7 linked regions of the Homo sapiens genome follow. The protein of the gene in region 1 purifies or fractionates together with the protein of each later gene. This does not show direct contact. Each region holds a gene or a part of one and is shown on either strand. Other genes may lie near its edges. The genes, in order: CD1B, DIPK1A, PODXL2, PCYOX1L, ULBP3, MAN1A2 and KCNJ8.

Region 1 (4,111 bases):
GAGTCTGGGAATGTTGTTAAGAGATACATACATTGAAATTTGGAGAGCTGCTCTGTATTTATCAATTAGGCAGTAATAATCTTGGATGAAGGCTAGTCTTATTAATGTTGTGAACCAGTCTTATTAATGTTGTGAACCAGTAGTGTCCCCAGGAATAGAGAACACTACACTACTCACTTTGCATTTTCTTATCCACATAATAGAATTAGTTAGTGATAACCCTCTTTACTCGGAATCGATTGCTGCCACATTTCTGCATGATACATAGATCTCTGCAAATATGTGATTTTTTTCCTAAATGGAGAAAATCCAAAAATTCTTCTTAAAATTTTTCATGGGCATACAAGAAGATAGGAGGTGACATCTTAAAACAAGTATCTCTGAACTTTTTGTATAAAAAAAAGCAACCTCTTTGCTCTATTATTAATACCACATGTGGTGATATGAATGCCCAAATGTAGACAGCAGTTATGAGATATTACAAGAGAAGAAAAAAGCTCTGCCGCTTATGGCAACTTACCCAAAAAGTTATCTTTGACTTAGGCTGGAGGTGCACATAGCATAGCTCCTAGAGTTCTGTTTATGTCATGAATATTTGTTACTCAAAACTCCATAGGCCAAGAGCTCCTGAAGAGAAGGTCACATGCTAGCAGCAATTGTCATTTTTTCCCTCAAATATTGCTATAGTATAATTTTGTTTGAATTATAAACTTCAGTCTTTATTATATTTGATTCTGGCATTTTGGTTTGTAGTGCTATAGTACAGGAAATGTTTTAAATGCTTTGCCTTTATGTAAGTGAATATCGGTACACACACATACACATACACACACAGACACAGACACACACACACACACACTCACAGCCAGTTTAGAATGTGGGGTAAGGAACACCAGACAAAGAGGGCAATATAAGAAAGAGAAGACATTGAAAACATTGGGAAGAGGCAGTAACAGAGTGCCAGAGAAGATAAGGCAGCTGGGAGGGGGAGAAACTAAGTGAGGTGGATAAACTAAAAGCATCCTTCTGGGTTAAAGCAGACTAAAAGCTTAGCAATTGCTTAATATCACCATCTTATCCTATAGATGTGGGAATAAAGGCTAAGGAAGGAGAAATGAAAATGCAGAATCATATGGGGGCTTTTCCAAGGAGGTATGAAGGAAGGTGAGGACAGGGAGAGCGGCTGGAAGTCAGGGGGTAAGAGAAACTCTAAAAATCAGGGCTTGAGGGAAATAAAAGGTGAGGTAAGAGGCTCAGGGCTGTGGGAGGCACATTTTTCTCTGAAAAGCAGTTTGGATGAGGAAGAGATTTGGCAGTTGGAAGAGAGAAGAAGTCACTACAGGGTACTGAGGAAAAGCTTTGCTGAAATTGGAGATCAAATACCAGCTCTGCCAGTAAGAAGTTGCATCTCCCAGTGAAATGCTGCTGCTGCCATTTCAACTGTTAGCTGTTCTCTTTCCTGGTGGTAACAGTGAACATGGTAAGAGTCACTCTGGCAGCTCCCAGCACTGGTGCAGGGGTTTGGATTTTAAAAAGCAAGCAGGGCTTTCCTAGGTGCAATTGGACACTAAGGGTCTGGGTCTTTCTGTCTCCCGCCCTCTTCAACCATTCTGGTGGTTGGGACTAGAACCTGAAGCCTTAAGGCAGTCAAATGTGTCAGACTTCCTGTGTTCTTTAGACTCTAGGTTCTTGTTTTCTAAATCATTTTCATTCCCATTCTTCCTAATTGTCTCCTGCTTCTCTCTTTATCTTCACCATCTTGCTTTTCCACTCTTCACAGCCTTCCAGGGGCCGACCTCCTTTCATGTTATCCAGACCTCGTCCTTTACCAATAGTACCTGGGCACAAACTCAAGGCTCAGGCTGGTTGGATGATTTGCAGATTCATGGCTGGGATAGCGACTCAGGCACTGCCATATTCCTGAAGCCTTGGTCTAAAGGTAACTTTAGTGATAAGGAGGTTGCTGAGTTAGAGGAGATATTCCGAGTCTACATCTTTGGATTCGCTCGAGAAGTACAAGACTTTGCCGGTGATTTCCAGATGAAATGTGAGTCTAGTCCACCGAACTGGGAAGAGTCTCAAGGACTCTCTTTTCTCTCTTTTTTGCAAAGTGTTGCTCTCTCTGATGCTTCTCCCTTCCTTTCTATTTTACCCAAATGCACGCACATGCTTTTCTTGAGTAGTCTCTCACTCCAGCTTCACACCATCACACCTCATATTTCAGATTCTTGCTGCCTCTGCACTCTTCTCTTACTCTCAGACTGTCTTCCACTTTGTAACCAGCTGCTGGTTTGTCTTATGTGAAACTTCTCCTCAAGGGCCCTTACTTCTCCTACCCTGTGCCTGAGTGATCTAACGTGTGGCTTTCTCCCCTAATCCATCTTTTCAATCATCTCCTCCCCGCACCCTCCTCTTGCTGGGAACCTCCACTCACTCTGGAATGCTGCACTCCTGACTGCACCACGCTCTGCCTCACCTCTCCTTTCATACTCACTGTACTCCTTTATCACATACCTTTGTCTTCATGGCATGCACATTTTTCTCAATGCTCTTGTTTCTGAAAATGTCTAAATGTTATCATTAGTTTTTAGCTCATCATCATTTTACACCAAATAACTTTATCCCCACCAAAATCTAAAATCCTAGGTTCTTTTCTCATGCCTTTTTTTCTTATTTGTGTTTAATAACTTGCTCTCTTTTCCCTCTACATAGACCCCTTTGAGATCCAGGGCATAGCAGGCTGTGAGCTACATTCTGGAGGTGCCATAGTAAGCTTCCTGAGGGGAGCTCTAGGAGGATTGGATTTCCTGAGTGTCAAGAATGCTTCATGTGTGCCTTCCCCAGAAGGTGGCAGCAGGGCACAGAAATTCTGTGCACTAATCATACAATATCAAGGTATCATGGAAACTGTGAGAATTCTCCTCTATGAAACCTGCCCCCGATATCTCTTGGGCGTCCTCAATGCAGGAAAAGCAGATCTGCAAAGACAAGGTTAGTCCTGCTGTTATTTCACTTCCCACCACCTCCTCTAAGATCAAGAGTAGGAAGATATCAAAGGATAGGAGCTTAAATAACAAGTTATTTGGTTCCCAAAGGAGTGAATGGGGTCGCTGTCCAAGCTTGTAGGTTTCTGAGTTCATAACCTCTGAACTCGAGTTATAACATGACACTTTTTTTTCTCCTTCCTGCCTTAGTGAAGCCTGAGGCCTGGCTGTCCAGTGGCCCCAGTCCTGGACCTGGCCGTCTGCAGCTTGTGTGCCATGTCTCAGGATTCTACCCAAAGCCCGTGTGGGTGATGTGGATGCGGGGTGAGCAGGAGCAGCAGGGCACTCAGCTAGGGGACATCCTGCCCAATGCTAACTGGACATGGTATCTCCGAGCAACCCTGGATGTGGCAGATGGGGAGGCGGCTGGCCTGTCCTGTCGGGTGAAGCACAGCAGTTTAGAGGGCCAGGACATCATCCTCTACTGGAGTAAGAAATAGCAGGGACCCAGGCTGGAAATGCCAGGAAGTGATCTTCAGGCATAGAGGGAGGCACTGGGGAAGGATAGAGCTTGAGAGATGAAAGAGGGAGAGATTGATTGATTGATTTCCCTGACCCCAATCCCAACAGGAGTAAAAATAGATAATCCAAGTTATCAAAAATGTAGGAATTAAGGACCTGTAAACTGGGTAGAGGGGATCAAAGGATGGATATATGGTGGCCAGGAATATGAGAGAGGAAGTTGGAAATGACCATACATTGGAAGTAGGTGGGCAAAGGAAGGCCAAGGAATTCTGTGTATAGTATCTGAAGTGACATCCTTTTGTCCTCTCTCAATTGCCAGGAAACCCCACCTCCATTGGCTCAATTGTTTTGGCAATAATAGTGCCTTCCTTGCTCCTTTTGCTATGCCTTGCATTATGGTATATGAGGCGCCGGTGAGTTGTGGGTGGTGTTGTTTTTTTTTTTAATATGTCTTTTCTGTTCACCCTTCCACTGTTTTTTACCATTTTATCTATTTAAAAATTGTTTATCCTCAATCCTTTCACCATATCCTTTCCCCAAACTCCCATTCGTTTTATGTGGACTTAAAAAAAATTCTGTTAAAATACACATAACATAAGGTT
Region 2 (3,500 bases), about 65 Mb from region 1:
TAGTAAAGTCAGTTGTTATCTTTATTTAACCCTCTGTTTCCAAATACATCTGACCAGGGACATATTTTATCCATGGAATATCTATTAATGTGCTCCAAGGTACCTAGTTTGAGAAAGGTGGCCTAGAGAAAGAGAAATAAACATTTCAAATAGTTTCGGTTATTTGTATGTTTTTGAACTTGATTATCTACCTCCTGTTTCCTCCTTCTTCACTGAAGGTTAGAAACTGAGTTTTGTGGGGTTTTATTAGCTTTATTAGACTGTAACTTCTTCTGTCAGTCTTTTCTGATGTAGGGTAGCAGAAGGAGTATGAGCTTCATAGAGAGACAGAATTAGGATCAAATTCTGGTTCCATCATCTTGGGCAAATTCTCCTGTCTCTCTGGGTCATAGTTCTTTATCTGTACACTATTATGCTAAGGATTAATGAACATGTAAAGTACCCAGTACATTGGCCCCAGAGATACCTCCTATCTTAAAATTCCTTAAGGATCTAGAATGGCCAGTTGGAATGAACACAGGATTGCTATCTTTGAACCTTGACTTAGGACTCTTCTTTACTAACTCATTCCCCTCTCTTGCCTAGTTAAAAGACTGTAACACTCCTGTGGAATAACGTGTTTTTGTATCCTAACTGATGAAGCACCTTGTGTTAAACTGGTTTTTATTTTCTTAGAACTTGGGGAAGCTCCAGGTTTCCGTCTTATGTTCCCATAACAGTTGCTATCTTATTTATCTTACCTTACTGTAATTACTCATTTTCTTTCCTGATCCACTGTAAGTTTTATAAGGTCAAAGATATTTTGCTCCCTGTTATATGCATACACCACTGGCCTGGGTAAAGAGTAGCTACTCAACAACTATAGAATCTTTAACAAGTTATAATAATTGGAACCCTCCAAATCATTACTATTCAAATATAATTCTGAGATGGAGTGTTTTAATATTCTTTATATTAGAAAGTACTGGTAGAGGCCAGGTGCGGTGGCTCATGCCTGTAATCCCAGCTCTTTGGGAAGTCAAGGAGGGCGGATCACTTGAGGCTAGGAGTTCAAGACCAGCCTGGGCAACATGGTGAAACCCCGTCTTTACTGAAAATACAAAAATTAGCCAGGCGTGGTAGTGCGAGCCTGTGATTCCAGCTACTTGGGAGGTTGAGGCAGGAGAATTGCTTGAACCTGGGAGGCAGTTGCAGTAGGCTGAGATTGTACCACTGCACTCCAGCCTGGGCAATAAAGCAAGACTTCGTCTCAAAAAAAAAAAAAAAAAGAGAGAAAGTACTGGTGGAAAAAAAGGAGTTAAATTTACTTGAAATTCTCAAATTTTTAAAATATAAGTCTATAGAATTAATGATCACTACTAGAAATCTTAGACTGATACAGTCATTTTTCTGAGATACATCCAATCACTAGGATAGAAACAGAATAATAATCCTTTTAGATAAATTTTGGTATTCAAGAGTAAAAGATGTGTTCTAGAAAGTCTGCCTGTAAATACGCTTTTATAGTCTAAACATTAAAAAACTCATCTGATTGAAATAAACTAAAACTTAAATATATTAAAAATATATATATATATAATAAAAATCCTTCTTTGTATTGAGGATGCCCCCACACTAACTTATTTATGTGTTATATATTTAAATTTCTGAACACTGGAATTTTCAAAGTGGGGAAAACTTTACTAATGGGTCATGTCAAAAAGCTAAGAAGATTAGCACAATTCTAATGTCAAATTAACTTTTATTTTTAAAAACATCATTAGTAAGTATGTAAGCAGTAAATATAGTGTTATGAAGAGGCTTTTTAGTAAACAGGAAATTTAAAATACTTACTATTATTTTCTTACAGTCCTTTCCTCTGCATAATTCTGTATAGGTAGAATACTGCACATATATAATCCAGCTTCCAACAAAAACCACTAACCAGGAAAAGAAAAGATATTTCATCCGCACATATGAGAAGCGAGCCTGTGAGTAAAAAAGAACATAACGATCATTCATTCAGCACCAAATCAGCATTCAATGTCCTAGAACACGACTTCTCACCCTTCTTGGAACAACTCAATATATATTCCAGGCTTTTATATGGCAATTCTAGAACAAAGTGCACTTTCACTGAGTCCAAACAGCACTGGTCTTAGAAAAGGAAGCTCCTTGGTCCTGCCAAGGAAAAAGGGAACAAAATATCCTTTAAGATGTATAACCTTTCAAATACCACCATCATCCAAAGCTACTTTTTAGGCACAAGCACATGTACCATGCTACCCTGGGCACCTTGTGAGATCAGGTAAAGAGAGGTACAATTCCTATTTACTAGAAGCTTACAAAAGACTCTTTCACATAAGAATCTTAAAGGTCTTTAGGAAAATCATGATAAAAATAATTTTGTTTTAAAGAAATAAGAACAGAAAATCTGGCTATTTGTCTAATGTCTCATACTGACAACCAGAACAAGAAATTAAGCTCTACAGTCATTTCTATTTCCCTATTGTATTCACCAGGGCTTTATGTTCCTCTTGTTCAGCGAACCAAATGTTTCACCGAATAGATATTCTGGAAACTGAGGAGACGCTAACAATTGTTAAAGGAGAAATGACTGGAGAAGGGTTAAGATATATTAAAAATAAGTTACTCTTTGCATATCAACTTGCAAAGTGTAAAGCTGCACAATAGGATCCTCTTTGCATTGTTTTGTTTCCAGTGCTCTTGTATCTAATTGCAACTCGGGCTGGTTGATGCCTTTTTTCCATCAATTACATATCAAACAGTTTCATCTTCAAAAGTGACACTTGATCAAGACTATTTGACATTTATTTTTTGAGTCTGTAGCACCCATGGTCTGGTTTTATAAACAGCAGAACTGAGGACTACGAAGAGAATTCGGCAGAATAAATTAAAGATATGTAAACAAACAATGAAAAGCTAGTTTTGCTTTTACAATCACGAGCCAGTTTCTCACACTGGGAACAGTAGGATATTGTGAGCATTGTGAGCATGCAAAGAAGCAGAAAGAGATGAGAGAGACATAAGCACACCTGCAGAAGACAATGAGTGCAAAGGAAAAAGAGACTCAGGAAATACTGAATTCTATTGGCCCTATTTGTGGTTTAGATATCTTTGTGAGGTTAACAGATGGTGAATCCCTGTACCAAAAGGCTTGAGTACAATGAGTTCTCAGTAAAATTGTAGGTCTCTGAGCTTTATTATTAAAATGAAAAAGTGCCTTAATGCAAGATACTTTTGTATTGCTCTAAGTAAAAAGAAAGTTCAGATTAAACTCCAAATTAAATCACATAAAAGACAATGGGGTATATACCATGGGGTTTGTTTGAAAGATATTTAAGATGACTCGTCTCTAATAAGAGGTTTGGTCATCAGACAGAAATCGACATGTACTAATATTGTGAACCTAAATAAGATTAAATGACATAATGCCTATAAAACATAAGCATATTGCTGGGCACGTAGTAAGTATTCAGCAAATGTTAGCTAAATCAATT
Region 3 (3,500 bases), on another chromosome or scaffold:
GAAGTAAGAATATATACTTACATTTTTCAGTGGACGTTAAATGAGAACCCACAACCCCTAACATAGTGCTGGGCACATACTGGGTGTTGAATACATTGATTGATGTACTTGTACTTGATCTGAGATTGGCCTGTCTGCAGCATGGTTTTCAGCAGTCCCTGCTACTGCTGCATGGAGTTCAATGTCCCTAATGGCCATGTTAGGATAGCACTTGGCACAGTCAATCTGGACTCTGCAGGACTCCCAACCCAGGCATGCCCTCTCAAGGTTCTTTTGACTCCTCCAACCCCCAAGAGGTGATCCACCTCCTTCTCCCCAAGAACCCCTAGACAGAAGCCTGTGGCTCCGGGGCACAAGAGCAGACAAGAATAGGGGGGTAGGGCACGCCACTGTCCCCTGGGCTGCCTCCTACACCAGCCTGACTATTCGCTGTCAGCCTGCCACCTTAGCCACTTTCTCTTCTGTCATGTCCTAATCATATGCCATCAAGGTGCTGCAAGAAAACAGAAGCAGGGGTCACTAGCCTGATTTCAGGGCCACTGCCAGTACACGGAGATGTCCCCTCTGGGCAAATGAATTAGAAAAAGGTGCTCCTCCCACCCAGCCCATGGCCTGGTTGGCAGGGTGTATGCTGGACTTCAGCTCCAACTCCCATGCTCGGTCAGGAGCCCCGGACAGGGCACCACCAGCATAACCACGTGCACTGGTCCTGCTCATTGGTCAGAGCTGGCAAAAGCCTCTTGAAGCTAGTCCTCTTGAGCTAGGTACTCAAGGACGAATACATATCCACTAGCACATCAGGATGGAGAAGAGCTTCCCAGCAGATGGGACAAGAGGAACAAGTGCATCACAGGCTTAGGGAATAGGCCAGGCTGTTGTCAGTGAGAAGACACTGACTCTAGATCCAGCTCCATTACATCCAAGCAATGTGTCCTTGGGCAAAGCACCCTACTTCCCCATGCCTCAGTTCAACTCTGCCAAGCAAGGAAGAGAACAAGCTGATGATGAGCTAATCAGATGCATGCTGGAGCAAGGAAGGAGAAGAGGCTGGGGAAGGCTGGGGCCGGACTATCAAGAGCATTTTCTGCCATGCTAATAAGTTCAGCCTTTAACCTGTGGGCTTTGGGGTTTGAGAAGGGGTTTGTTTGCTAGTTTGTTTGAGAAGAAGATGGGCAACTCCAGTTTTTTCACAGGATCATGGTCAGGTAGTACAGAGAAGAGATTGACCTGAGGAAACGTAAGGCGAGGGGACAGGTCAAGAGAGGAGCAATGAGGGACAGGACTGAAGCAACTCTCCTCCCTGCACCTGCCTGGCCTCCTGGCCTCCTCCCTGCACCTCCTCTGCCTCCTGGCCTCCTCCCTGCACCTCCCTAGCCTTCTGCCCATCCTGGGTAGGGTGATTGGTATCTCCACCTCACAGCCAAGCTGTATGCAGCTGTGGTGAGGACTAGAGACAATCGAGGCAAAGGCCTATGCATAGCCGGTATTCAATGAATGAGAGCTATTTTTATTCTTATGAGACCTAGGGAAGGAAATGGGAGAGGAAGAGACATGAACTGAAAGAAAAAGAAAGGGAAACGAATCCCCTGGGGAGGGGGGAGGACAACAAATCGAGCTCATCAAGGCTTCAGGGCCCTCCACTGTGGTCCTGAGGCCAATGCTCTCTGCGTGACTGCTTACCTCACACTAGACGCTCAATAGTCTCAACAAAAGGGAAAGGCCAGAAAAAGACCCAATAATTGTCTGGTACAATGTAAAAGTTTGTTTAAATCATTCCTTGGCCAGGCACAGCGGCTCACACCTGTAATCACAATACTTTGGGAGGCTAAGGTGGGTGATCACTTGAGGTCAGGAGTTCAGTCAGCCTGGGCAACACGGTAAAACCCACCTCTACTAAAATTACAAAAATTAGCTGGGCATGGTGGCACGCCTGTAATCCCAGTTACCAGGGAGTCTGAGGCAGGAGGATCACTTGAACCTCGGAGGCAGAGGTTGCAGTAAGCAGAGATCACACCACTGCACTCCAGCCTGGGCAACAGAGTGAGACTCCATCTCAAAACAACAACAGCAACAAAATATCATTTCTTTAAAATGATAAGAGGACAGATTTATCAATGGATGCCGCCATGACAATAGATGATCTATATGGAGAAAATGAAATTAGATCCTTATCTTACACCACACACAAAAATAAATTACAGCTAGATTGGACTTAAATGTAAAAAATTAAGCTAAAGAATAGAAGGGGCCAGGCGTGCTGGCTCACACCTGTAATCCCAGCACTTTGGGAGGCTGAGGCAGGTGGATTGCTTGAGCCCAGGAGTTCAAGACCAGCCTGGGAAACATGGCAAAACCCTGTCTCTACAAAAAACAGAAAAATTAACCAGGCGTGGTGGGGTACACCAGTAGTCCCAGCTACCTGGGAGGCTGAAGCAGGAGGATCGATTGAGCCCAGGAGGTCAAGGCTGCAGTGAGCTGAGATTGTGCTGCTGCACTCCAGCCTGAGGTACAAAGCGAGACCCTGTGTCCAAAAAATAAAAATAATTTTAAAAAAAGAATTTACATTAAAAAAAAAGAATAGAAGGAAGAAAGGTGCATGTATCTCAAGGGCAGAAAGTATTTTCTAATCATAAAGTAAAGAAAAACACATAAAAACATTTTAAAAGAAGTAATTTTGCTGGGTGTGGTGGCTCATGCCTGTAATCCCAACACTTTGAGAGGCTGAGGCAGGTGGATCACTTGAGATCAGGAGTTTGAAACCAGCCTGGCCAACATAGTGAAATCCCATCTCTACTAAAAATACAAAATTAGCTGGGCGTGGTGGCACATGCCTATAATCCCAGCTACTTGGGAAGCTGAGGTAGGAGAATTGCTTGAACTTGGGAGGCAGAGGTTGCAGTGAGCTGAGATCACACCATTGCACTCCAGCCTGGGTGACTAGAGCAAAACTCCATCTCGAAGAAAAAAAAAGTAATTTTAAGCTTATAAAATATTTAATTTCTTTATGCCAAAAATTATAATAAAAATACAAGCAGTTGACAAACTGGAAAAATGTTTTCTACGTATGTCAGAGGAAAGTTAGTATCCTTTTTCAGATTTGTACAGGGATAAGAAAAAATTAAAGACTCAATAGAAAAAAACAGGAAAGTAATAATAATAGCTAATAGTCACAGAGCACTTAACAATGTGCCAAGCACTGAGCTGAGTGCTCGAAATGTATGATGGTGTGTGAACCTCACAACCCTGTGAGGTAGGTATATAATTATCTCCATTTCCTAGATGGGAAACTGAGGCTTAGGGTTAGTTACTCGCCAAAAATTGCATCACTGTTAAATGACAGCACTGGAGCCTTCCTGACTCCAAAGCCTGTTCTCTTAACTACACTGTGCTTCAAATAAAAAAGAAGAGTGATAAGTGGTCACTATTTTTGTGTATATGTATATTCTATAGAATACACATATTCTGTATATAATGAACGTACACATATGTTTTGTACATAT
Region 4 (3,500 bases), on another chromosome or scaffold:
CCCTCTGAAGGAGGCAGCCAGCCCTCCACCGCAGCCATCTGCAGCCAGCCGTGTACAATGCCCACCTCATGTGGCTAGATCTACTCACTTTTCAGAAGAAGCTGGAAATCCAGAGTCGTGTGTGAAATCTTTTCAGTTTTTCAACATTTGCAACCAATTCATCTTGTAAGCCAAATGAAACACTTCTGCAGGGCAGATGCAGCCTGTGGACCACTCATTTGCAAACTTTGTTGTCCTCATTTTTCCATCTAGAATAAACACCTTTCTTCACCACTCCTCCTATCCCTGGGCTCCAGCCCCCTCCCCATCACCTTTGGTCCCAGATGTGGAGGGCAAGTGGTCTGTTCCCTCCCTGTTCACCAAGCTGTCACTCCACCTTTCCCCAAAGTCCCTCCTGAAGGTGCTCCCTGCTTCCAGCCTAAGGCGCAGGGGCTGCTCCCCGGACCCCATCACTGTCTGCCTCCCTTCAGTGTCACTCAAGTGTGGCCTGTGCCCTCCTGCCCTGGTTCCTGGCACTTCTCCACTCCCTTCCCATTCTATAACTCTGCTGTTTATAGCACTTCTTCCTTATATTCTCCAGATGTCACCCAAAGCTTATTTCCTTACCTCTCTTTCTGATATTTTTCTCCCTTATCAATTATATCCAGACCAATAATGTTGACTTCTACGTTTTATGGGAAATGACTTCTCCCTCTCAGCCCTAGTTTCCTCTTCACTTCCAGACCCACATTTCAACTTTCTGGACACCTCCATCTCGTGTCCTATTGATAACCAAACTCAACATGTTTACAAAAGAAGCCCTAGAATGGGCAACATTTCAAAGGCCAGCCAGTCAGGAAATCCATCGATGGTTCCAATCCATGCTAGTGAGATTGCATGAGTGATAGAGCGACAGGACATGAGCCTGGGGGTGAGTGGGAGCCCTGTCAGATGAAGCGAGAGGAGAGGACAGGCTGGACTGGCAGAGAAGGTGACAGTATCAGCATGAAGTTGCAGTGTGTCATCAGGTCCTAGAAGCTGTGGCAGAACCGACACTGTTGGAGAAGGAGATGTGTCAGCAGGGGTGGGCCGTAGCCCCAGCTGGGTGAAGAAAGGGTTATGAACTATGACCTCAGGCAGGGAGTGGCTCAGAGCAGTGATACAGTTGTTACTCAGCACAGCCGTGATGTGAAGCCAGGCCTAGAAGGATTCCATACCTTCACACTCCCTTTAGGTGGGACAGGCCCGCCACAGTCAGAGAACAGGTGCCAGGGAACATGACCAGCCTCTTCTGCCACCACTCCATGTAGAGGAAGTGATGGGTTCCTGGTGGGCCTCCCAGGCACTATAACCCAGGGGCAGGTGGTCAGGCAAAAAGCCTTCCTGCACAAGGACTCCAGCTCTATGTGTCTTCTAGGATCTATAAGTACCAGGCCCACGGCTATGCCTTCTCGGGTGTGGAGGAGCTGCTCTACTCACTGGGGGAGTCCACCTTTGTTAACATGACCCAGCACTCTGTGGCTGAGTCCCTGCTGCAGGTGGGCGTCACGCAGCGCTTTATTGATGATGTCGTTTCTGCTGTCCTGCGGGCCAGCTATGGCCAGTCAGCAGCGATGCCCGCCTTTGCAGGTAAGCGTCCAACCCTTGGCCTGCCCACCTGCCCCTCCTCCACCCAAGGTGCTCAGAATGGGCTGGGGGTCCCCATAATAACCTCACTTTTATCCAGCTCATTGCAGTCACATAGGCACTCTGCTGCCCCATCCTGCCTGATTCTGGGACTGGCCATGAGTTGGCAGGAGATAGTATCACCCCACTTCACAGACAGTGAAAGCAAGGCTCAGATCACAGGTCCAGTGTGTTTCTACCACTCCCAATTGCTTCATAATCCCTTGCATGTGTGTAAATGTTAGAGCTGAGATAATGCTCTGCTCTCTACACTTTGGTTTCAAGAACTGCCCTGTTGAGGCCTTTGAGCCACTGTGAGAGCACCTCCTCTTCCCAGCTCTTCACGGGAGTGGCTGGGCCTGTGTGTAGCTCACTGTCTGCTAGCACAGACCACAGGAGTGGAGAATGTAGGCTTCACAAGAGCAGGAATCCTTGTCTATTGTTCCCTGATACATTGCAAACACAGAACAGTGCCTAAGTCATACTAGGCACTGGGTATATTTTTGTTAAATAAATGAATGCAAAGGTTTACAATAACAAGCACCTCCCTCGTACCCTCGATACTGTTCATCTGGCTCTGCACATGCTGGCTCCTTCGCAGCCTTCAGGCCCTGCCTCAGTGTCCCCTCAGTGTTCCTTGCTCACTCTTTCAGTATCTTGTGTGTCTCCTTCATAGCATTTTTGTGTAGAGATATATAGAATTCACATACCATATAATTCGCCCATTTAAATTGCACAATTCAGTGGTTTTTAGCACATTCGGAGTTCTAAAACCATCACCACAATCAATTTTAGGACATTTTTATCACCCCAGAAAGAAACCCCCTTGCCCTTTAGCCCTCACCTCCCCAACACCCCCCGGCCTCCCAGCCCTGGGCAGCTACAGATCTGCTTTCTGTTTCTGTGGATTTGCCTAGTCTGGGCATTCTGCATAAATAGACCTCACAATATGTGGTCTCTGGGAGCTGGCTCTTTCGTTGAGCACAGTGTCTTCCCCCCATAGCATTGTGCACTTTGTTGTACTTACTTGTATGTTTGCCATCTCCCCATGCCCATGGTTGGGAGAGTTTTGCTCTGGCAGGGAGGCCCAGTCGAATAGTACTGGACTCCCCAGCCCTCCTGCCCCACGGCCCTGACAACCTATCAGCACCCACTTCCCGCTTTGCCCAGGAGCCATGTCACTAGCCGGGGCCCAAGGCAGCCTGTGGTCTGTGGAAGGAGGCAATAAGCTGGTTTGTTCCGGTTTGCTGAAGCTCACCAAGGCCAATGTGATCCATGCCACAGTGACCTCTGTGACCCTGCACAGCACAGGTGAGTAGACAGGGCGGGAGTGGGCAGGCATGCCATTCCCAGCCAGTGGACAGACACTTCTGCCTCCTTTGTACCTCAGCCCTGGTCTGTGATCCCCCTGGGGAGTATTTCCGAAAAAGCATTGAGAAGCCCCAACCCTGCCAGGTGACACTAGAGGGTGCTGTTTCCCCAATTCAGATGTCAGCCAGAAAGCTGAGACTTCCATCGACCCAGCCTTTTTCTGTTGACCGATGAGGACTTTGAATGACATCCTTGCCCACGCTCCCCCAACTGGCCAGCGGCGGAAGCAGAGCAGAAACTGAGTCTCCTGACTCCATGCCCCTTGCTTCTTCTGCAGCCGCATCAGCATGGAGAGGCCAGGACCCACCATTTAGACAGCCCTGCTGCACCCTGAGCACCAGGGTCTCGTTGTACCTCAATGCTGGACCCCAGTAGGGAGTTCAGTGGGTAGAAGCCAAGGGAAAGTTGACTTTTGTGCTCTTTTCTTTCCAGAGGGGAAAGCCCTGTACCAGGTGGCGTATGAGAATGAGGTAGGCAACAGCTCT
Region 5 (2,785 bases), on another chromosome or scaffold:
GGTGAGTCCACTGTTTTCTGGGCACAATAAATCAGGATATATTGTGCAGACAAGAAATACGAAGAAATATTAGGAGGAAGAATATAAATTTTCAAGTACGAGTTGGGAAGAATTAGAAAAAAAACAATGAGGAAAGGGGCAAGGTTGGCTTGGTTGTAGCTAACCTGGTGGAGAAACACAGCCATCTGTGATAGAGGGCCTAAGCTGTTAGGTTCCCCTCCAATGGTGAGACCACCTCCACAACCTGCCCTGTGTCCTCCTCTCTCCTGAGGCTGAATGCAGCTCTTGTGCCTTCAGTGCCAAGAATGCCACAGTCCCAGACCAGAGGAAGAGCTGATGTGGACGGTGGAAAAGGAGGGGGTGGGTGTAGAAGGAGAAGGCTGACAGCAAGGATTTCCTGAGGATAAACAAAAAAAATGTCACTTGAAACTGGCAAAAAAAAAAAAAAAAAAAAAAAAAAGTAAGGGTATAAAGAACAAGATGGAAATGGAAATCTTGTATAATTTCATTATGCAGTGTTTAATTTTAGGGTTTGGCACTTTCACGTATAACTTTTATACAATTATCATCATATACAACTTACGATTATTTTAAATGACTAGAGTTTAGTTTTTGATCTGGGTTAGCGTTCATAGTGCAAAGTTCTCTCGTTCCACTCAGTTAACCCCATTTTTTGGAGGGCTCTATGTCATTTTATTTTACTTACGAATCTTTAATTTTAACCTTTATTATAGATTAAAGGGTACACATACAGGTTTGTTACATGGGTAGATTTTGGAAGGCTGAGGCTTGGTGTCCCAATGATCTCATCACTCAAACAGTAAGCATGGTACCCAACAGGTGGTTTTTCAGCCCAGGTGCCCCTCCTGTCTCACCTGTCTAGTAATCTCCAGTGCCTCTGGTTCATGTGAATTCAATGTGTAGCTGCCACTTTCCAATGGGAACATGCAGTATGTAGTTTTCTGTTCTTGCATTAGGTTGCTTAGGATAATAGCCTCTAGTTCCATCCATGTTGCTGAAAAGGACATGATTTTGCTGTGTTTGGTGGCTGCATAGATTTCCATGGTGTTTATGTACCACATTTTTTTCATTCAATTCAGTGTTGCTGGGCACTTAGGTTGATTCTGTGTCCTTGCTAGTAAGAATAGCACTGTAATGAACATATTGGTGCAGGTGTCTTTTGGATAAAATGAATTCTTTTCCTGTGGATATATCCCGAGTAGTGGGATTGCAGGCTTGAATGGTAGTTCTATTTTAAGTTCTTGGAGAAATCTCCAAACTGCTTTCCATAGCGGCTGAACAAGTTTGCTTTCCCACCAACAGTGTCTGTTTCTTTTCCTCTGCAGCCTCACCACCATCTCCAACTTTGTGACTGGTAAGAGATGGTAACTCATTGCAGTTTTGATTTGCACTTATCTGATGATTAGTGATATTGAGCATTTTTTCACGTTTGTTGGCCACTTGTATGTCTTCTTTTGAAAAGTGTCTGTTCATGTCTTTGCACATTTTTTAATTGGGTTTTTTTTTCTTGCTTGTCTAATTGTTTAAGTACTTTGTAGATTCTGGATATTGGACCTTTGTCAGATGCAGAGTTTGCAAATAGTTTCCCCATTCTACACGCTGTCTGTTTACCGTGTTGCTAGTTTCTTTTTCTGTGCAGAAGCTCTTTAGTTTAATGAGGTCCCATTTGTCAATTTTTGTTTTTGTTACAATTGTTTTTAGTGTCTTCTTCATGAAATCTTTGCCAGGCCCTATGTCCACATTGGTATTTCTTAGCTTATATTCCAGGATTTTCACAGTTTTATTACCTGCGCAACATAGGAAGACCCAATCTCTACCTAAATATAAAACAATTTGCCAGGCATGGTGGCATGCGCCTGTAGTCCCAGCTACTCTAGAGGCTGAGTCTAGAGGATCACTTGAGCCCAGGAGTTGGAGATTACAGTGAGTGATGACTATGCCACTTCACTCCAATATGGTTGACAGAATGAGAAAATGTAAAAAAACTATAATGATAAAAAGGATTAATACAATTCTTGGTCAGTGCATGGAAAGGATCCCTGAGGTCTGAAGTCCTGCATGCTATTTTACTAGCAATACCGTTTCGAAGAATAAGGTCATGCTTCAGAGAAATGTCTGCTTTTCCACAATCAAAGAAGTAGAAAGAAAATGCCTTTTGCTGGGATTTCTTGTTCAGTTAAAACTTGTGCAGGAATTCCATCCATTAGCACCGAGAGAAAGTGGCAGAAGGTGTTAAGAAAAATGGCTGGCCGGGCGCGGTGGCTCACGCCTGTAATCCCAGCACTCTGGGAGGCCGAGGCAGGTGGATCATGAGGTCAGGAGATCGAGACCATCCTGGCTAACAAGGTGAAACCCTGTCTCTACTAAAAATACAAAAAATTAGCCGGGCGCGGTGGCGGGTGCCTGTAGTCCCAGCTACTCGGGAGGCTGAGGCAGGAGAATGGCGTGAACCCGGGAAGCGGAGCTTGCAGTGAGCCGAGATTGCGCCACTGCAGTCCGCAGTCCGGCCTGGGCGACAGAGCGAGACTCCGTCTCAAAAAAAAAAAAAAACAAAAAAAAAAAAAGAAAAATGGCTGCTGGGATCATGAGCGAAGGTAATGAGTGGCCTGAGATGTTGAGCCGACAATGTCCTCATCATCTGCTGGGGGCCTCTGGGCTTGCTAAGGCTTGAACTCCTGCTTTCCAGAAAGGCACAGTGGTGAGTAGACAGGCGGCCTCCCTGAAGGGAGAGCAGGAACCAGACCAGGCTAACAGAGGCTTCTTG
Region 6 (2,462 bases), about 41 Mb from region 1:
CATATATATATATATATATATATATATATAGAGAGAGAGAGAGAGAGAGAGAGAGAGAGAGAGAGAGAGGAAAAGATAGGACCTAGCCAATTTGAGTATAAGGAAACCTAAAGAAAAATAACTCAAAATACTATTACTAGGAACTGTTATTTGGAACTTTGAATATTTTAGTATATTTTTCTTTATATTTAACAGCATGGGACTATTAATAGGGCCCATACCAGAGCAGACACAATTTACAACTGCAAGTTTTACCCATGAATTATGTGACAAAATCTTTTTGAATATAAAATAACCAGCATTTCTATAAAACACTGCTTTTTAATTATGCAATTAAAGTGATATAGCAAAATAAGAACGTTTTTATTTCTAAAGTAAATATTTTAGTCAAAGTTGCATCAGAAATCAAGTATTTCTTTGACATTTTCAAGAGGTTTTAGTTATTAACTACAATTATAGTTGTATTATACAGTAACACATTGTTTTAAAATATATTATAAACCTTTTCTTTTTCCTCTTTAATTTATATGAAATATAAAATTAAGAATTTTGTAACACGATTCATATTGGAAACATTTAAAATGTTGTGAGCTACTCTCATACAGAAAATGCTGTGGAATCACATAAAACATTCTAATGATTGAAAGTGCCAGGCACAATGCTTGGCACATGTTAGATACTTCATAAATGTTCGTTCACACATTCTCTCATTTACTCATGCACTCATTCAAAAAACTCCAGGCTTAAGGAGAAACTGCATTATAAATGAGAATGGCAAACACAATCTTTTATCAACAAATTTGGAGTTTTGACAAAGACTTTGGCAATGGAGAGTGGAGAAGATGAGAGGATGATGATTAATATTTCAAACTGCTTGGTTAAAATCTAGCAAGTATAGCCCTGAGTTGCTCTATATGACATCATAGAGGATCAGGGTCAATACTCCATAAAAAGAATGCATTTCCCTTCGATACCCAGGTTTTATTTTACATATAAACACCTGCTTAAAGTCAGGAATACGCTGATGTTAGAGAGATACAAAATGTGCAACCCACAAGAAAGTAAGAACCACCTGACTGGGGACTTATTTTTCTGAGTTGAGACTTCTTTTTGGTTAGGGCCCCATTCCCTTGGTTTTAACAACTTAATACTGGTTGAATAATAATAATAATAATAATCTGGTTTAACATAAAAAGTGTGATTCTAAAATGAAGAGAAATAAATGTAGAAGGAAGAACAGTGTTCAAAATTCCTATTTTTTTCGATTATGCACCAACTGATGTATCTATTCTGCACATTTGTGCCAAAGGCACAAGGTAAGGTGTCAGCTCTTTGAAGAGGCACCTGAAAAGGACCATTTCTGGGCTTTTTGCAGAAGATCTTATAAATGCAATGAATATTTAACCTGAGTATTAAGGTCTACAAAATGCAAAGAGCTGTAAAAGACAGAAGAAAGTAAAGAATATTCTTGGAAGCTAAGCATTATATGGGATAAGAATTGATCTTGAAGGAAATAATTTAAAAATCTATAACAAAAATAAAACATGACACTGGCAAGTCATTTGTAGCTGACTTTAATTGCCTTTGGTATTCAGGAGAATAAAAAAATGGAAGTACTTTTATAAGCTCTAGTCTTTCCATCACATAGAAGGTAAGGAGTGGTGAAGAAGACCCTTCCATTGTCCCTGTCAAATTCTTTGTTTGTACCAGAACTGGCTCTGCTTGTATACTTCCCTGCCTTCTCTTAAGCTTCAGTCATCTGGGTAATACAAATAGAGCACTTGGAAGTAGGGGTTCTGTCTCCTCATCCCTTGAGAAGTTCCTGCAGAACCAAGAAGGTCCCTTTACTCTGCATTCTTCTAAATAAGGTAAAAGAGAATTCAGAGAGTTCATTGCCATCTGCACTGCTGCTCTGCATCTTTGCCAACTCAAGTTTTTCACTTTTTCTCAGTGATTCATAAGTGGGCTTGTGCTACTTTTACGAGGAAGGCTAACATTTTTTAGAACCAAATACTTTCCCTTTTCCCTTCTACAGTTACAGTAATATATATACCTTTCTCATTTAGAAATTTAAATGTTCAAGTAGTAAAAGATATTACAATGTCAAAACATGTGCTATAATTTAACTCTCTTAAGGACTATTGTAACTGGCCCTGCATCCTTATTTTCTACTGAAATTTTTTTGCAGTGAAAAATTTTATACTGAAAAAATTTGCAGTGGTTATCATTTACGGATCAGTAGAACTGTCAAAATTAACGATTCGTGGTATAAGATGATCAACCTTAGAAAATACTATATTAGTTAATTAAGTCTTTCCCCAACTTAAAACCTAAGTTTAAAAGAAAAGCTTATCAAACAAGAAAATAAGCCTTCAGAATTCCAAGGTGGGCTTCTTGTACAAACTTTGTTTCAGGAAATCTTCAAATTCAGAGTAAATGTTATACTAATTATACTGTTTCTA
Region 7 (3,500 bases), on another chromosome or scaffold:
GGAGGCAGAGCTCAGGAGGTAATGTTTGCTCCCCCACTGCTCACCTCCTGCTATGTGGCCTGGTTTCTAACAGGCCACAGACTAGTACTGGTCTGCAGCCCAAGGATTGGGAACCCCTAGTTTGGGGCACCATGAGCCATGCCCATATAAGATGGCAAACAATCGATAAATGTGTGTGTTCTGAGTCCTCCACTGACCAGCTGTTCCCTTGTTTCTTCCCCTTTCATCAGGATTTCCTATTCCCTGAGACACAGCACTATTGAAATTAGGTCAGTTAATAGCCCTACAAAGAACACTAAGTGTTCGAGTAAAGGAAATATTCGCTGTCTCTCACTTTAAATCAAAAGCAAAAATGATTAAGCTGGTGAGGAAGGCAAGTCAAAAGCCACGATAGGCCAAAGTTTAGGCCTGTTGTGCCAAACAGCCAAGTTGTGAACAGTGGAAAGAAAAAGTTTTGAAAAAAATTCAAAGTGCTACTCCAGTGAAGACACAAATGATAAGACAGCAAAATAGCCTCATTGCTGAGATGCAGAAAATTTGAGTGGTCTGGATAAAAGACCAACTAGGTCACAACATTCCCCTAAGCCAAAGCCTGAATTAGAGCAAGGCCCTAACTCTCTTCATTTCTATGAAGGATGAGAGGTGAGGAAGCTGCAAAAGAAAAGTTTAAAGCTAGAAGAGATTGGTTCAGGAGGCTTAAGAAAAGAAGCCACCTTCAAAACAGAAAAGTGCTAGGTGAAGCACCAAGTACTGATGGAGGAGCTGCAGCAAGTTATCCAAAAGATCCAGCTAAGAAAATTAGTAAAGGTGGCTGCACTAAACAACAGATTTTCAGTGTTGAAAATGAAACAGCTTTCTATTGGAAGAAGATGTTACCCAGGACTTTCATAACTAGATAGAAGTCAATGCTTGGCTTCAAAGCATCAAAGTTCAGGCTAACTCTTGTTAGGAACTAATGCAGCTGGTAACATCAAGTTGAAGCCAATGGTCATTGATCAATCTGAAAATCGTAGAGCCCCAAAGTATTATGCTAAATTGACTCTGCCTATGCTCTATAAGTAGAACTATAAAGGCTAGAGGACAGCATATCTGTCTGCAGCATGATTTATTAAATATTTGAAGCCCACTGCTGAGACTTACTGCTCAGAAAAAAAGATTCCTCCAAAATATTATTGCCCATTGACAATGCTCCTAGTCACTCAAGTGCTCTGATGGAGATGTAGAAGGAGTTGATTGCTGTTTTTATGCTTATTAACACAACATCCATTCTACAGCCATGAGTCAGGGAGTAATTTCGACTTTTAAGGCCTATTACTTAAGAAATTTACATTTCATAAGGCTATTGCTGACATAGATAGTGAGTCCTGTGATGGAGCTGGGCAAAGTAAATTTAAAACCATCTGGAAAGGATTCACCATTCTAGATGCCATTAAGAACATTTGTGATTCACGGGAGGAGGTCAGAATATTAACATTAACAGGAGTTGGGAAGAAGTTCATTCTAATTCTCATGAATGAGTTTGAGGGGTTCAATACTTCAGTGGAGGGAGTCACTGCACATGTGGTAGAAATAGCAAGAGAATTAGAATTACAAGGGCATTCTGAAGATGTGACTGAATTGCTGCAATCTCATGATAAAACTTGGATGAATGAGGAGTTGCTTCTTCTGGACAAGCAACCAAAGTGGTTTCTTGAGATGGAATCTACTCTTGGTGAAGATGCTGTGAACACTGTTGAAATGACAACAAAGAATTCAGAAGATTACATAAATTTAGTTGATAAAGCAGTGGCAGGTTTTGAGAAGATTAGCTCCAGTTTTGAAAGAAGTTCTACTGTGGGTAAAATGCTATCAAACAGCATCACACATTACAGATAAATCTTTTGTGAAAAGAAAAGTCAATTGTTGCAGCAAACTCTTCATTGTCATATTTTAAGAAGTTGCCACAGCCACCCCAACCTTGAGCAACCACTACCCAGATCAATCAGCAGCCATCAATATCAAGGCTAGCCCCTCCACCAGCAAAAAGACCACATCTTGCAGAAGGCTCAGATGAACATTAGCATTTTTTAGCATTAAAATATTTTTTGAATTGAGATATGTATATTTTTCAGCCATAATGGTATTACACACTTACTAGATTACAATATAATATAAATGTTTTATATGCACTGGGAAACAAAAGGTTTGTGTAACTGTCTTTATTTTGATATTTGCTTTATTGCAATGGTCTGGAACCAAAACTGCAATATCTCTAAGGTATACCTGTAATTAATATTATACTAACTTGAATTTTCTCACTTTGGCCTAATCCTGTGAAAGAAGCAGAGGGAAGGAACCAAGAAGTTGTAGGATTTTCTTGGGAAGCTTTTTCAAATTGCACATCTACTCCCTATCTTAGTGAATAGACATTGATTTGGTAGGCTGAGGTTGGATCTGGGTAAGATGCTTTTGAAAAGTTCTCAGGGGATTCTGATTTACTCCCATATGGGAAGCACCACATTTGTTACTATCAATTTATAACACTTAATTTCACAACAAGTACTGCTGTGGCTTCTTCATAGAAACAATATTAGTTCTATCTTTGCCCCCAACCACAATTTCAAACTTCTCTAACTTTATAGAAGACAAGCCTACACATTAGCAATCTCTCAAAGTATTACCTATTTATTAATGCTACAGACAGCAGGTGAGAAAAATGTTTAAACATTTGAGTACTTGGTATGTACAGTGCACTTTGGTAGAAAATTATGAGGGATAAGCAAGAATACATGGATTATTCTTTTGATTAGCTTTTAAGTGAAGTGCGAAAGTTGCCTTTCTCTTTTGTTGCTAAAATGATTCATGGAAAACTACAGTAATTGCCTATTGCACTAACTACCCACAAAAAGATATCTGGTATAGCCCCAAAACATGGCAAGAATAAAAATGGACCCCAGAGAAGGGGTATGGATACAACACTGATTTCTGATAATGTATCCATACCTCAGAGAGCAGTCTAATGATAAATATCCCAAATAGTTTGTTTTAATGGTTTAAGAGACTATTCATGAGCCACATTTTGTATATTGTTTATGAATTCTAAATATTACATATGGTACAAGACCCAGCTTTTTACTGACACTTGCTATGCTAAACAATCTCAAGAGATAAAAGTGTTTAGCTGTTTCTTTGTTCTGTTACAGAAAGAGGTAGGCTGGATAATATCGAGAAAGAGGAAATATATTGGTCTATTTTTTGACTCATATTAAATGGAGTCAAAGAGACTCCTTGCAGGAGAAAATACATGGAGGAGAAAATGAGTCACCCTAAGAGAAGAATGGTCAAACATTATTTGGAAATACTGGTGAATATTCAATGAAAAATGTTGTTTCCAATTTTAGTGATATGGTTGGACATTGAATTCACAAAGGGAAAAATGCAAAGAATTAGAATTATTATTAGTCACCTTTTACATTCTCATTGGGAGAGAATGAAGATTTTTAAGGTTTGCTGTTACCATT

Evidence for each region.
Region 2: the proteins of CD1B (region 1) and DIPK1A purify together in Homo sapiens (affinity purification with mass spectrometry; 3 studies listed by BioGRID and IntAct, with this or other methods). This does not show direct contact.
Region 3: the proteins of CD1B (region 1) and PODXL2 purify together in Homo sapiens (affinity purification with mass spectrometry; 3 studies listed by BioGRID and IntAct, with this or other methods). This does not show direct contact.
Region 4: the proteins of CD1B (region 1) and PCYOX1L purify together in Homo sapiens (affinity purification with mass spectrometry; 3 studies listed by BioGRID and IntAct, with this or other methods). This does not show direct contact.
Region 5: the proteins of CD1B (region 1) and ULBP3 purify together in Homo sapiens (affinity purification with mass spectrometry; 3 studies listed by BioGRID and IntAct, with this or other methods). This does not show direct contact.
Region 6: the proteins of CD1B (region 1) and MAN1A2 purify together in Homo sapiens (affinity purification with mass spectrometry; 3 studies listed by BioGRID and IntAct, with this or other methods). This does not show direct contact.
Region 7: the proteins of CD1B (region 1) and KCNJ8 purify together in Homo sapiens (affinity purification with mass spectrometry; 3 studies listed by BioGRID and IntAct, with this or other methods). This does not show direct contact.

The regions. Positions count from the first base shown.
Region 1 is NC_000001.11:158,328,732-158,332,842, reverse strand, and holds the start of CD1B (T-cell surface glycoprotein CD1b precursor), read left to right. Parts: upstream 1-1,311; 5' UTR 1,312-1,419; coding exon 1,420-1,480; intron 1,481-1,780; coding exon 1,781-2,047; intron 2,048-2,712; coding exon 2,713-2,991; intron 2,992-3,194; coding exon 3,195-3,473; intron 3,474-3,828; coding exon 3,829-3,922; intron 3,923-4,111. UniProt on the Homo sapiens protein: Antigen-presenting protein that binds self and non-self lipid and glycolipid antigens and presents them to T-cell receptors on natural killer T-cells.
Region 2 is NC_000001.11:92,874,463-92,877,962, forward strand, and holds part of DIPK1A (divergent protein kinase domain 1A), read right to left. Parts: intron 2,689-3,500; exon of another isoform or gene 2,499-2,688; intron 1,969-2,498; coding exon 1,834-1,968; intron 1-1,833.
Region 3 is NC_000003.12:127,642,685-127,646,184, reverse strand, and holds part of PODXL2 (podocalyxin-like protein 2 precursor), read right to left. Parts: intron 1-3,500. UniProt on the Homo sapiens protein: Acts as a ligand for vascular selectins. Mediates rapid rolling of leukocytes over vascular surfaces through high affinity divalent cation-dependent interactions with E-, P- and L-selectins.
Region 4 is NC_000005.10:149,364,546-149,368,045, forward strand, and holds part of PCYOX1L (prenylcysteine oxidase 1-like isoform 1 precursor), read left to right. Parts: intron 1-1,396; coding exon 1,397-1,608; intron 1,609-2,814; coding exon 2,815-2,955; intron 2,956-3,447; coding exon 3,448-3,500. UniProt on the Homo sapiens protein: Likely to have oxidoreductase activity. Required in the mevalonate pathway to regulate prenylation and enhances the bactericidal activity of neutrophils.
Region 5 is NC_000006.12:150,060,553-150,063,337, forward strand, and holds the end of ULBP3 (UL16-binding protein 3 precursor), read right to left. Parts: 3' UTR 501-2,785; downstream 1-500.
Region 6 is NC_000001.11:117,524,449-117,526,910, reverse strand, and holds part of MAN1A2 (mannosyl-oligosaccharide 1,2-alpha-mannosidase IB), read right to left. Parts: 3' UTR 1-2,462. UniProt on the Homo sapiens protein: Involved in the maturation of Asn-linked oligosaccharides. Progressively trim alpha-1,2-linked mannose residues from Man(9)GlcNAc(2) to produce Man(5)GlcNAc(2).
Region 7 is NC_000012.12:21,768,207-21,771,706, forward strand, and holds part of KCNJ8 (ATP-sensitive inward rectifier potassium channel 8), read right to left. Parts: intron 1-3,500. UniProt on the Homo sapiens protein: Inward rectifier potassium channels are characterized by a greater tendency to allow potassium to flow into the cell rather than out of it.